Linked DNA regions of Homo sapiens: regions 2, 3 and 4 are each reported to be linked to region 1. The links are microRNA targets in miRTarBase. Many come from high-throughput screens and were not tested one by one. Region 1 holds a microRNA gene; each other region holds the end of a gene's coding sequence.

The links. The annotated mature microRNA hsa-miR-7978 reads UCUGGUGUAUAGCGUUGCUCA and lies in region 1 at 1,089-1,109, shown strand. An mRNA with a match to its seed (bases 2 to 7 or 8) in the 3' UTR can be bound and repressed. Matches are read on the target gene's strand: a 7mer-m8 pairs with bases 2 to 8, a 7mer-A1 pairs with bases 2 to 7 and ends in A, and an 8mer does both.
Region 2: miRTarBase lists IGLON5 as a target of hsa-miR-7978. Seed matches in the 3' UTR shown: 7mer-m8 at 1,481-1,487.
Region 3: miRTarBase lists C7orf33 as a target of hsa-miR-7978. Seed matches in the 3' UTR shown: 7mer-m8 at 805-811.
Region 4: the mRNA of ZNF419 is a reported target of hsa-miR-7978. Seed matches in the 3' UTR shown: 8mer at 2,519-2,526 and 8mer at 2,366-2,373.

Annotation. Positions count from the first base shown.
Region 1 is chr4:21,462,616-21,465,846 of GRCh38, reverse strand. MIR7978 (microRNA 7978) reads left to right here and starts at 1,089; the gene lies at 1,089-1,147. All of the region lies in intron 1 of KCNIP4 (potassium voltage-gated channel interacting protein 4), which reads left to right.
Region 2 is chr19:51,328,108-51,331,338 of GRCh38, reverse strand. It overlaps IGLON5 (IgLON family member 5), which reads right to left. Exons shown (of 8, transcript NM_001101372.3): 8 at 448-2,668. The coding sequence ends at 2,580. Among named protein-coding and RNA genes, the nearest start is that of VSIG10L-AS1, 10 kb to the left of the region's middle. RefSeq lists an enhancer at 2,159-3,081.
Region 3 is chr7:148,614,737-148,617,967 of GRCh38, forward strand. It overlaps C7orf33 (chromosome 7 open reading frame 33), which reads left to right. Exons shown (of 3, transcript NM_145304.4): 3 at 591-1,124. The coding sequence ends at 665. Among named protein-coding and RNA genes, the nearest start is that of C7orf33, 26 kb to the left of the region's middle.
Region 4 is chr19:57,493,656-57,496,655 of GRCh38, reverse strand. ZNF419 (zinc finger protein 419) reads right to left here. Exons shown (of 5, transcript NM_024691.4): 5 at 558-3,000. The coding sequence ends at 2,566. Among named protein-coding and RNA genes, the nearest start is that of ZNF773, 4.8 kb to the left of the region's middle.

The DNA.
Region 1 (3,231 bases):
CTGAGAACTCACATGTAAGTCCAGAGCACAGAATAAGGAGCCAAGAATTGTTATTTGCATGTTTTAAGCTACCACTCTTGGAGAGTGCCCACTATGTGTCAGGTACCTTATCTTAAATATTTAACCCTCACTACAATTCTGTGAAATAAATATTTTTCATGCCTGGTCTCCAAATTAAAAGACTGAGAAAGCTTGGAGAAGTTAGGCGAACAAGTCAATGTCCAATATCTAGTAAGTTTCAGAGTCATGTTTTATAGTCAGATATGTATGTATTCAGATATATCAACAAAATTAGCCAATGTAATGGGGTTATTGTAGGAGGTTGCAACTGGTGGTCTTAGGACACTGGGCATTGCCCTAGACATAATGAAGAGAGTTGAGTTTGTAGACTCAGTTATTGGGTACAACAATCCTTCTTGCCCACATCAGAAATTGATGGAGGTAAGGAAAGGAGCATGTAGAGAATCCTGTGGACAGAAAGCATTCATAATCCAGCATTGATCTGGAAAGTATATCTTATGTACCTGCTGAGCATGTCAAGTTCTTACTCTTAGCTGCTGTCAGTAGGATTGGCCATCAGATTCTGGATTTTATGTCATAGTAGAATCAAGTGTATGTTTACTATAAGTACTCTTAGGGCTTGTCTTACAGTAGGCATTCAACTCAGTGCTTATGAATGACTAAATAAATGGGTGTGTTCTTTCCTGAAATAGCAGAAAGCAGTAATGTTCTTCTTCTATTTATACTCAAAAAAGGCTATGTGCAAAGCAGGAGAGACAGCCTGGCAGTCTACACCTGTGCCAGTAATCCCCCAACAATCCTGTCAAGATTAATTTTCAGAGAGCTCTTACACAAGAATATTTGGTGACTTCATGTTCTACAGTGATCTATTGAATCAGAGGAATCAAAAATAGCCACTTTTTCCATGGTCGTAGAGGGGTGTTACTCATATTACTTTTATGAGAAATGAGTAAGTGAGATGGATGCATTGAAATATATTTATTAAAATTAAAAATAAATTCTGAACAACTAGTCAAGTATTTCTGCTGCTTTGGTATGGAACATTGTGTAAATGTCTGTCAGGTCTATCTGGTGTATAGCGTTGCTCAAGTCCTCTATTTCTTTGAACAACAGTATACACCAAATAGATGTGATAGACACCAACTAGGCGTGATAGAAAAAAACAGCAGAATATATACTCTTTTCAAGTACATATGGAACATTCCCCAGGATAGATTATATGCTAGGGCATAAAACAAGTCTGAATAAATTTTTAAAAAATTATACAAAGTATGGTCTCCAACCACAGTGGAATGAAATGAGAAATCAGTAACAGAAGGAAATTTAGAAATTCACAATTATGTGGAAATTAAGCAACACACTCTTGAGTAATCAATGGTCTGAAAAATGCCAGAAAGATTAGAAAATGCTATGAGAGAAATGAAAATGAAGATAAAACATACGAAAAATTATAGAATGTAGCTTACACAGTACTTACAGAGAAATTTATAACTACAAATGTCTATATAATAACATCTCAAGTCAATAATCTAACCTGACAACTTAAAAAACTATAAAAAGAAGAGCAAACTAAATGCAAAACAATCAGAAGGAAGAAAATAGTAAATATTAGAACAGAAATAAATAAAATAGGAAATAGAAAAACAAAAAATCAATCAATTCTAATTGGTTCTTTAAGAAAAAAATTAAAATTGACAAAATTTTAGCTAGACTGAAGAAGAAAGGAAAGAAGGTATAAGTTGATAAAATCAAAAATGGGAGTGGAGACATCACTACCAACCTTACAGAAATAAAAAAGGATCATATAGGAATGCTGTGAACATTTGTGTGCCAACAAATTAGGTAGCTTAGATGACATGACAAATTTCTAGAAAGACAACCAGAAACAACCACCATTGATTCAAAGTGAAATAGAAAATCTGAATAAACTTATTACAAGTAAAATGATTTAATTTCAAACGAAAACATTTCCCACAACTTAAAGCCCAATTCCAGATGGCTTTGCTGGTGAATTCGATTAAACATTTAAAGAAGAATTAGTAATAATTCTTTACAAACTCTTTCAAAAAAGAGAAGACAAAGGAATATTTCCAAACCCATTCTAGGAGCTAGCATTATCCTTATGCCAAAACCAGGTAAAAACAGCACAAGAAAAGAAAACTAGAGAGCAGTATCTCTTATAAATGTAGACACAAAATTTCTCAATAAAATACTAGCAAACACTGGCAATAAAAAGGAATAAAGTACGAATACATGCTACAACATTGTTGAACCTTGAAAAATATTATACTAAGTGAAAGAAACCAAACACAAAAGACCACATCTTTTATGATTCCATTTATATGAATGTCCAGAATACAGAAATCTATAGAGACAGAAACTAGATTAATGGTTGCCCAGGGATGAGGTATGAAGTTGGAGAGAAAAGAGAACTCAAACAACTCAATCACAAAAACACAAATAATCTGGTTTAAAAATAGGCGAAAGACCTGACTAGACATTTCTCAAAAAAAGACATTCAAATGACAAAGAGGTATATGAAAAAAATATTTAACATCACTAATCATCATGGAAATGCAAATCAAAACACAATGAGGTATTACCTTACTCCAGTTAGAATGACTTCTATCAAAAATACAAAAGATAACAAGTGTTGGGAAGGATGTGGAGAAAAGGGTACCCTTAAATACTGTTGGTGAGAATGTAAATTAGTTTAGCCATTATGAAAAACAATATGGAGATTTCTCAAAAAATTAAAACTGGGACTACCTTATGATCCAGCAATCCCACTGCTGGATATATATCCAAAGGAAATGAAATCAGTATGTCAAGGAGATGTCTCACTCTCATGTTTGTTGCAACACTATTCACAATAGTCAAGTTATGGAATCAACCTAAATGTTCATTAACATTTATGGATAAATAAAATGAATAAATAAATGGATAAATAAAATGAATAAATAAATGAATAAATAAAATGTGGCATATATATGGTATACAAACACACATAGACACACATACACACACACACACACACACACACACACACACACACACACAATGGAATACTATTTAGCCATAAAGAATAAAATCCTATATCATTTGTGACAATATAAATGAACCTGGAAGACATTATGTTAACTGAAATAAACCTAACACAGAAAGACAAATACTGCATAATCTCACTCATATGCAGAATCTAAAGTCGTT
Region 2 (3,231 bases), not on the chromosome of region 1:
CAGAACTTCCTCCCTATACATCTTCCCCACCCTCTACCTCCCTCTATCACTGCCTTCTTCCCTCTCATGGGGTGGGAGGGAAGCTTTCCTGGAAACCTACAAGCAAATTTCCATTTATGTCTCTTTGGCCCAAACTGGCCACATAGCTGCAAAGGAGGCTAGGAAACCAGATATCTAGCCTGTATCATAACACGTGGATCTGCCAGCGAAGAAGAAAGGGGAACCAAACAACTCAAATGTGGGCAACCAGCATCTGTCTCAGGGAAGGAAAGCATGTGAGAGAATTTCTGGTTAATGATTGGGGGTAGAAAAGGCCATTGGAAAATAGAACCCCTGGATCCTTTTGGAAAGGTGAGGGTTGGGGTTCTGGGCCTTCTATGTCTCTTCTGTATCTATTATGGTTTTCATTCTCTTTTTTATTACTAGAGATAGAAAATCCAATGCAAATTGGTTTAAATATACAGGGGACTTTATTGCTTATATAAGTGAAAATGGGCATCAGTTAAGTTTTGATCCAGCTGCTCAAATGATATATAATCATGGACTCAGTTTCTCTAAGGTTTCCACTCTGCCCTTCACAGTGTTCCTATCCTTCTCAGGCTCCATATGCTGTCCTCCCCACCATTGCTATCCCCACAGAGCCAAGATCTCTCCATGTGATGGAGAAAAGCAACCCTACAGATGTTGACTTCACATCACGGAGCCACAATATCCAGCAGAAAAGCATCTCTTCTTGGGAATCCATTCACTTTCTCATTAGCCTTACTGGGTCATGTGCCCATCTCTGAGCCAATCACGGTGGGAAATGGGCTATGCTGGGTGTCTTCGGCCAATCACAGGGCATCTCTGTAATGAGTCCATTCCAAGTCTACCAGTGAGAAAGTAGGCGGTAGGAATGATGCTGGAGAGGCACCACCAATTGACTGCTACCCTTTGCCCTTCATTAACTCTAATCCTTAATGACATTGACACCTGCAGGCAGACTTTGGAAAAAGGCGTTTATTGGTGTGGTGGTCTCAACACTCCCCATGAATTGGAACACATGGCCCCCAGGGCCCCCCACCCCCTCCCTAGCATCCCTCCCCTGTCCCACCCCATCCCCTGGACCCTGGGAATGGAAGACAATGTGGGATGGGGCCCATGCCCCCGTCTGAGGTACAGTCACTGCGCCTTGCCCTCTCCTTTTCTCCACCAGACTCTGGGTGGTGTGGTTTGGGGTGGGTGTTTATATAGAGGGTCTCCTGGGAGTCGGAGTTGGTGACATGGCATCTTTGTCTGGGCTCAGGATGTCTGTGTGATGCCTCTCTGTCCCCCACTTTGTGTGGTGTGGTGTACCAGGGTGGAGTGTTCCTACAGTCAGAGCTGAGGCTGCGGCCTCTCAGCGTCCCTTCCTGACACCAGATGCCTACCCAGGGGGAAATACAGCTAGTCACCAGCTACCGGACAGCTGGAGCCAGGGGGCTATTGCTGGTCACAGTCGCTGGTGTGTGTGTGTGTGTGTGTGTGTGTGTCTGTGTGTGTGTATGTGTGTGTGGTGCGTCTGAGTGTCTGTGAGGGCGGTCAGGTAGCCTTTGGGAGGTACAGTTGGTGGAGAGGCCAGGAAGTGATAGACCAGCAAGCTCACACCTGTGGGCCAGCTGCAAAGGCCCCAAGGGCAGCTGGCTGGTGCCGCAGGTGGGGAAATCAAGGCCAAGGGGAGTGGTGGCAAGGGTAGGGCAAAGCACTGAAACAGACAGGTGACTCCTGCCACCAGTCTGACAGTTGGATGGAAGCACCGATTGGCCCAGGAGGGGGCCAGAAAATCCAGGGTGTGGAGGGACAGGAAAAGTGGGAAGGTCTCAGGCCACTGAGCCAGCGATGGGGCCTCTGGCTACAGGAAGCTGGTGGTTGACAGCAGGGAAGCCCAGAGCCTAGATGGAGGTCCCCCACTTACTCACAAAGGCTGAATGACAGCTTGACAGGTGAGTGCGATGCCCCTCCCCACTCCCAACCTGCCAGGAGTTGCCCTTTCGACAGGGGGAGGGGTAGTGTGCGTGCATATATTGGGGAAGCAGGGAGCCTGGTAAGCCTCTCTTCACAGCTTCCACTGCAGAGCCTCATACCTACCTCCAGCCAGAGGTGAGAGGCAATAGGGTTGGGGACAGTGGACATGGGGGTTTTGGGGGCGGGAGGACGGCTGAGTCCCTTCCCCCAGCCCACCCCCCCACACACACACAAACAGAGACACAGACACCTACACATGCATGCAGGCTCACACTCACACACCCACACCCACACAAGCCAGTTGACAGCCTGAGCTAAGAGAGAGGGGTATGGGGTGGCGGGAGTGGGTCACAATCGGAAACGTGAACGGGTGGCGAGAATGGCTGTAGAAAGATGCATAATTTTGCGTTATCCCTCACAGTGATGGGTTCTCTGAAGATCTTTCTTCCTCTGCCTCCTCCTCTTCTCCTCTCTCTTCTTCCTTGGTGGCCGAGAGCTCTTCTGCCCCCACGAGACCCACGGCTCTTGCTCCCCCGTTTCTCTCACTCTTGGCCTGAGGCCCCCTGCAGGGGGAGGTGAGCTCCACTGGGTTGCGCCTACATTCTCCACCACAGCCAGCCCAGGGCGGAGAGGAGGGCCAGGAGCCCTGGGGGCCTCGGGGCTGAGTTCTCCAGGGATCCTGGGCCTGGGGGAAGAGAAGGGGTCATGGAGGGAGGCCTGAGAGTGGGGAACCCCATGTGTGTCTCTCCAGGGGCCCCATCTCTTCTGAGCCCACTCTTTAGCGTCCTTTCTGGATCTCTCATTGGGTGTGCCTGCTTTTCTGACTCTGTTTCTTTTTTTTTTTTTTTTTCTTTTTTTGAGACGGAGTCTCGCTCTGTCACCCAGGCGCAATCTCGGCTCACTGTAACCTCTGCCTCCCAGGTTCAAGCAATCCTCTTGCCTCAGCATCCTGAATAGCTAGGACCACAGGTGCCCATCACTACGCCTGGCTAATTTTTGTATTTTTTTTTTTTTTTGGTAGAGACATAGTTTCACCATGTTGGACAGGCTGGTGTCAAATTCCTGACTTCAGGTGATCAGCCCGCCTCGGCCTCCCAAAGTGCTGGGATTTACAGGCGTGAGCCACCACGCCCGGCCTCCAAAATTATTTTTTGTTTATGTATGTGTTTGCTTATTTACCTACATGACCACTTGTTTATTGCTTTTCTACTCCTACTAGACTATAAGCTCTGCGAATCCCCAAACCTT
Region 3 (3,231 bases), not on the chromosome of region 1:
GAAATTGGTGCCTCAAACCACAGTATCTATAAAGGAACTCCTAACTTAAAAAGTAATCCATCAATAGTAAGGATTTTTAAACTTCAGCCTAAAAATTTTAAATACTGTTAGTAGTAATAAAGCAATGAGATTTCTCTAAAATTATTGTTGCCTGTATCACTTTAAATCTTTGACATAAATGAAAAGTTGCATGGAAAATGCTAAAGTTCTAAGCAAATAGGTTGAGCATTAATAAATAGGAAGATGAAGTAAGTGAAATTGATTTTGTTAGGAACTGGTGGGAGCTGGTAGAGATAGCGATTTTTTTTAATACTTTTTAAAATTTTTATCTATTTACTTATTTTGAGACCAGGTTATAAGACTGGCTAATTTTTATATTTTTGGTAGAGAAGGGGTTTTGCCATGCTGCCCAGGCTGGTCTCAAACTCCTGGGCTCAAGCGATCCACCCACCTTGGCCTCTCAAAGTGCTGGGATTACAGGCATGAGCCACCATGCCAGGCTGAGACAGTGTTTTAAACTGTGCTATTGATGTTCTAGGGAAAAGGTAAATCATCCTGAGATAACAGAAGTCTTCGTAATCCACATGTAGGTACGTGGGCATGAAGTAAGAAAGCTCCAGAATTCTGTTGAGGCCACAAGGATTTCCAGAACTGACAGCAGTTAAGAATTTTGCAGAATCTAAGAGTCACATCTCTAAATTTGTGTAGATTGTGAAATCTCTTCTTGCAAGAAAAAAGAGAAATAGCTGAAGTTCTGGAAATAACAGTTGATGAAAACTTGGTAATCTGAAGTCTGAACTTTGAACACCAGCAGACAGGCTGAGAATTCTCTTTGATCATGAGCCCAAGTTCCACGTGTACCTGCAGGAATCTGTGTGGCATTTGTGCACTGGTGTGGGGCCCAGGAGAGGACCACGGAGTGACAAGCCACCAGGTTCTAAAGGGAGACGAAGATCCCCAGAGGACCTGGATAGAGATGTTTCCCTGACCATTGTCTGCTGTGTGCTCCCGATGATGAGACTCTAGAGTTTACAACTGAAACACACTGTCATTTATGATATTATTTGTAATATCTGGTATGTCTAAGTAAAACATGCATTCAGTAAAACTCGCGATGAAACTTATCTCATTGTGTGGATTTCATTCTTCTCAATTCTTTTATGTTTTCTGGGGTTTTTTCTAGATGGAGTTTCACTCTTGTCGCCCAGGCTGGAGTGCAATGGTGCGATCTCGGCTCCCTGCAACCTCTGCCTCCCGGGTTCAAGCGATTCTCCTGCCTCAGCCTCCCGAGTAGCTGAGATTACAGGTGCCTGCCACCACGTCCAGCTAATTTTTGTATTTTTAGTGGAGATGGGGTTTCACTATGTTGGCCAGGCTGGTCTCGAACTCCTGACCTCAAATCATTTGGAAACCACCATATTGAGTGTGCAGGAGGGGAAATCCTACCAGTTTGAAATGCAGTTTGGCCGCTTCTTTACTCTGTGATAATATTGTGTTTGTCAGCAAGGGTTCCCTAGCAAGGTACCACAGAGCGGGGTTGGGGGACGGGCTTAACCAACAGAGGCACATATCCTCACAGTTCTGAAGGATAGAAATCAGAGACCAGGGCATGGGCAGAGCCTTCTGAGGCTCTTTGACTTGTATAAGGCCATTCTCCCTGCGTCCTCACATGGTCGTCCCTCTGTGCATGTCTGTGTCCTAATCTCTTCTTCATATGAAGACACCAGTCACACTGGATTAGGGTCTACTCAAATGACCTCATGTTAACTTAATTACCTTTTTAAAGGCCCTATCTCCAAATACAGTTGCATTCTGAGGTTCTAGGGGTCAGGACTTCAGTATATGAATTTTGGGGAGACAATTCAACTGATAACAATTGTATTAGTCTGTTCTCACACTGCTACAAAGAAATCCCCAAGACTGGGTAATTTATAAAGGAAAGAGGTTTAATTGACTCTCACAGTTCCGCATGGCTGGGGAGGCCTCAGGAAGCTTACAGTCGTGGCGGAAGGGGAAGCAGGGACCTTCTTCACAAGGCGACAGGAGAGAGAGGGCATGCAAAAACGAGGAAGTGCCACACTTTAAAACTGTCAGCGGTCATGAGAACTCACTATCATGAGAACAGCATGGGGGAATCGCCCCCATGATCCAATCTCCACCCTCCCTCAACACACGGGAATTACAGATCCCTCCCTCAACACACGGGAATTACAGATCCCTCCCTCAACACACGGGAATTACAGATCCCTCCCTCAACACACGGGAATTACAGATCCCTCCCTCAGCACACGGGAATTACAGATCCCTCCCGCAGCACACGGGAATTACAGATCCCTCCCTCAGCACACGGGAATTACAGATCCCTCCCTCAGCACACGGGAATTACAGATCCCTCCCTCAGCACATGGGAATTACAGATCCCTCCCTCAGCACATGGGAATTACAGATCCCTCCCTCAACATGTGGGGATTACAATTAGAGGTGAGATTTGGGTGGGGACAGAGAGCCAAACCATTATCAACTGTGAAAACATTATGTAATAATAATAACAACAACTTCCAGAGATAGCTGTGTTGCAGGCACTGTCTTAAGTTCTTACATGTATCATTTCATTAATCTTCTAGGACAACAGTCCTAAAAGAGAGGTCCTATTTTACAGATGAGGAGCCCAAAAACGAGCTTAGGGTCACACACAGCTAGAATGTGGGACTTGAACCCAGGCAAGCTCAAGGCTCTTGGTCAATCCATGGAAGGAGAGAAAGGAAAAAGAAGGGAGGAGGGAGGAAGAAGGGAAGGATACCAGGGACCACAGTAGTGAAAGGCTGGGTTTCCTGCTACTACAGTGGGTAGGGCTCAAACAACCAAATAGAAAAATTTTTTAAAAATTCTAACCACACTCACCAACCCTAAATTAGTAAACTATTTTTTATGCATGTCCTTATGTCCTAGAAAATGGAGTCAAACTGGTTTTTGTTGTGATAGTAGTTTTTGAGACAGAGTCTCGCTCTGTCGCCCTGCTGGAGTGCAATGGCTCTATCTCAGCTCACTACAACCTCCGCCTCCCAGGCTCAAGTGATTCTTCTGCCTCAGCCTCCAGGGTAGCTGGGATTACAGGCGCACACCAGCACGCCCAGCTAAGTTTTGTGTTTTTAGTAGAGACAGGGTTTCGCCATGTTGGCCAGGCTGGTCTCAAACTCCCAACCTCAGATGATCCGCCCGCCTTGGCCTCCC
Region 4 (3,000 bases), not on the chromosome of region 1:
CTTTTTGTTTTGTTTTAGCATGAGTGCAAGTTTATTTAAAAAGGCTTTAGAACAGGAAAGAAAGGCAAGTATGCTTGGAAGAGACCCAAGGGGGTGATTTGAAGGACGAGTGCCTCAATTTGCTAAAATTTTCTTAAGGCTCTGTGTCTATATTCATGTGATTATTGGTCTATAGTTTTGTTTAATGTCATTGCCTGCTTTAGTGTCCTGTTAATGCTAACTTTCATATAGTCCAGAATTCTTTGAACCTTTGTCCTCTTGGAAGTTTGTATACAATTGGTATTACTTCTTCCTTTTTCATAAAAGTTCTTATATATCCTAGGAATGACCCTCAGCTGATGCCATCAAGAAAAAGGAATCTCAGTCCTACAACCACGAAGAACTTAAATATGCTAACAACTGAAATAAGCAAGAAACAGATCCTCCCTGAGACTCTAGAAAGGAACATAATCATGCCAACACTTTGATTTTAACCCAGTGAGACTTCTGTTATATTTGTGTTGTTTAAACCATAAGTTTGTGGTGATTTGTCAGGATAGCAATAAAAAGCTAATATGTCAACATTATTCTGTGAACATTTATTTATTTTCCAATGCAGTATTTCCTCAAATCATGTTGTACCTTTTCTGCCACAACTTGAAAACAGCCTCTTCTCTAAGGAGTTCTGGTTCCTTTTATTAAAAAATGATATAAACCAATAACTGGGTATTAAATGTGCTCAAAACTACTGGAATGCCATGGCTTGCTAGGCTCTCAGTAAAGATAGGGAATATGTACACATTTATCTATATATTGAATTATTTATTTGTAGTTAAACCTACAAATATTTCAGAAGTTGGATATTTAAAAAGATTCATAAGATTACAGTAGCATACTCACATAAGGCTTTTTTTTTTTTTTTTTTTTTTTTTTTTTTTTTTTTTTTTTTTTGAGACAGAGTCTGGCTTTGTGCCCCAGGCTGGAGTGCAGTGGCGCAATCTCGGCTCACTGCAAGCTCCGCCTCCCGGGCTCACACCATTCTCCTGCCTCAGCCTCCAGGATAGCTGGAACTACAGGCAGCCGCCACCACGCCCAGCTAATTTTTTGTATTTTTAGTTGAGAGGGAGTTTCACTGTGTTAGCCAGGATGGTCTCAATCTCCTGACCTCGTGATCCACCCGCCTTGGCCTCCCAAAGTGTTGGGATTACAGGCGTGAGCCACCGCACTCAGTCAAGGCTTTTATTTATAGGCAAAGATATGGTATAGTAAGAGGATGCAACACCAAATGCACAATGAATAAAATAACAAATGGATAAATTGGGCTCCATAAAATTAAGACAATCTGCTCTAGGAAAGATACTGTTAAGAACTGAAAACAAGGCCAAGCATGGTGGCTCATGCCTGTAATCCCAGCACTTTGGGAGGCTGAGGCAGGATGATCACTTGAGGCCAGGAGTTAGAGACTAGTCTGTGCAACATAGCACGACCTCATCTCTAAATTTTAAAAAAGAAAAGAAAACAAAAGCCATGGACCATGAGAAAATATTGACAATGCTTATATCAAATAAGGAATTTGTCTCCAGAAATATTAAGAACTTGTAACCAACCAAATGTTTTAAAAAACAGGCAAAAAATACATTTGACTAAAGAAGATATATGGGTGACAAGTAAACACATTAAAAAATGCTCAAAACTGAGTCATCGGAAAAATACAAATTAAGAACTACAATGAAATACTACTTCACACTTAGTAACATGGCTAAAATGAATGGCCTATGACTTCTACACATATAAACTGTCAGTAATGTGAAGAAATGGAAAATCTAATATATTCCAGGAGGAAATATGAAATGCTAACCATTTAGAACACAATTTGGCAAGTTCTTAAAATTTGAAACATTTGGATCAACTTACAGAATAACTGAATGAGGAGCTTTGCAGACCTGTTACACAGCCAAAAGGGTGAAAATTATAAAAACACAATTCAGTCTCTGGAAATGGTCATAAGGGTGTATGGGAAATAAATATTTATTAAAGAAGATCTAACATTCACAAGAACAGCAAAAGTGAGTCACATTTGAACCAAGACCACTCCTTTCCTCCCCCAACTCCAAACTCAGCGAGATCAAAACTCCATTCGACGGGTACAGCCAAGAATACAGGGCTCCCTCTCTCTGGAGCTCCAAGGCAGAGGGCTGTCTTCTCAGGAAGGACAATCTGTCAGGAATTCTCATCTTGCCTCCAGTGTGCATATTTAGATGAATGATGTTCAATTGCCAGCTCCCTCATAAAGGCCATCCTCAGAGTTTCTGTTTTAAGTGAGGTCATATTGATTCAGAGACAGTACATAACCTGTCACCCTAAGGCCTTTCTCCAGTGTAAACTTTCTGGTGTTGAATAGGGTTAGGCCTTTGGCTGAAACCTTTTTCCATATTCACTACATTGTCCACATTGTAAACTGTCCAGTGTTGAATGAGACTGGAGGTGTGGCTAACGGATTTCCATCTGTTACCTTCAAGATTTTTTCCACTGTGAACTTTCTGGTGTTGAATGAGGTTGAAACGCTGGCTAAAGGATTTCACACAATCACTGCATTTCTCCAGTGTGAATCCTTCGATGTTTAAAAAGACTGGAGTTGTGGCGAAAAAACTTCCCACATTCCCTGCACTCATAAGGCTTTGCTCCAGTGTGAACCCTCTGATGTTTAACAAGGCTGGAATTCTCTCTAAACAATCTCCCACATTCATTGCACTTAAAAGGCTTTTCTCCAATGTGAACTTTTCGATGTTGCATGAGGGTTGAGCTTTGGCTAAAAAATTTCCCACATTCCCTGCACTCATAAGGCTTTGCTCCAGTGTGAACCCTCTGATGTCTAACTAGGGTGGAATTCTCTCTAAAGAATCTCCCACATTCATTGCACTTAAAAGGCTTTTCTCCAGTGTGAACTTTTTGATGTTGCATGAGGCTTGAGCATTGGGTAAAAAATTTCCCACAGTCGCTGCACTTGTAAGGCCTTTCTCC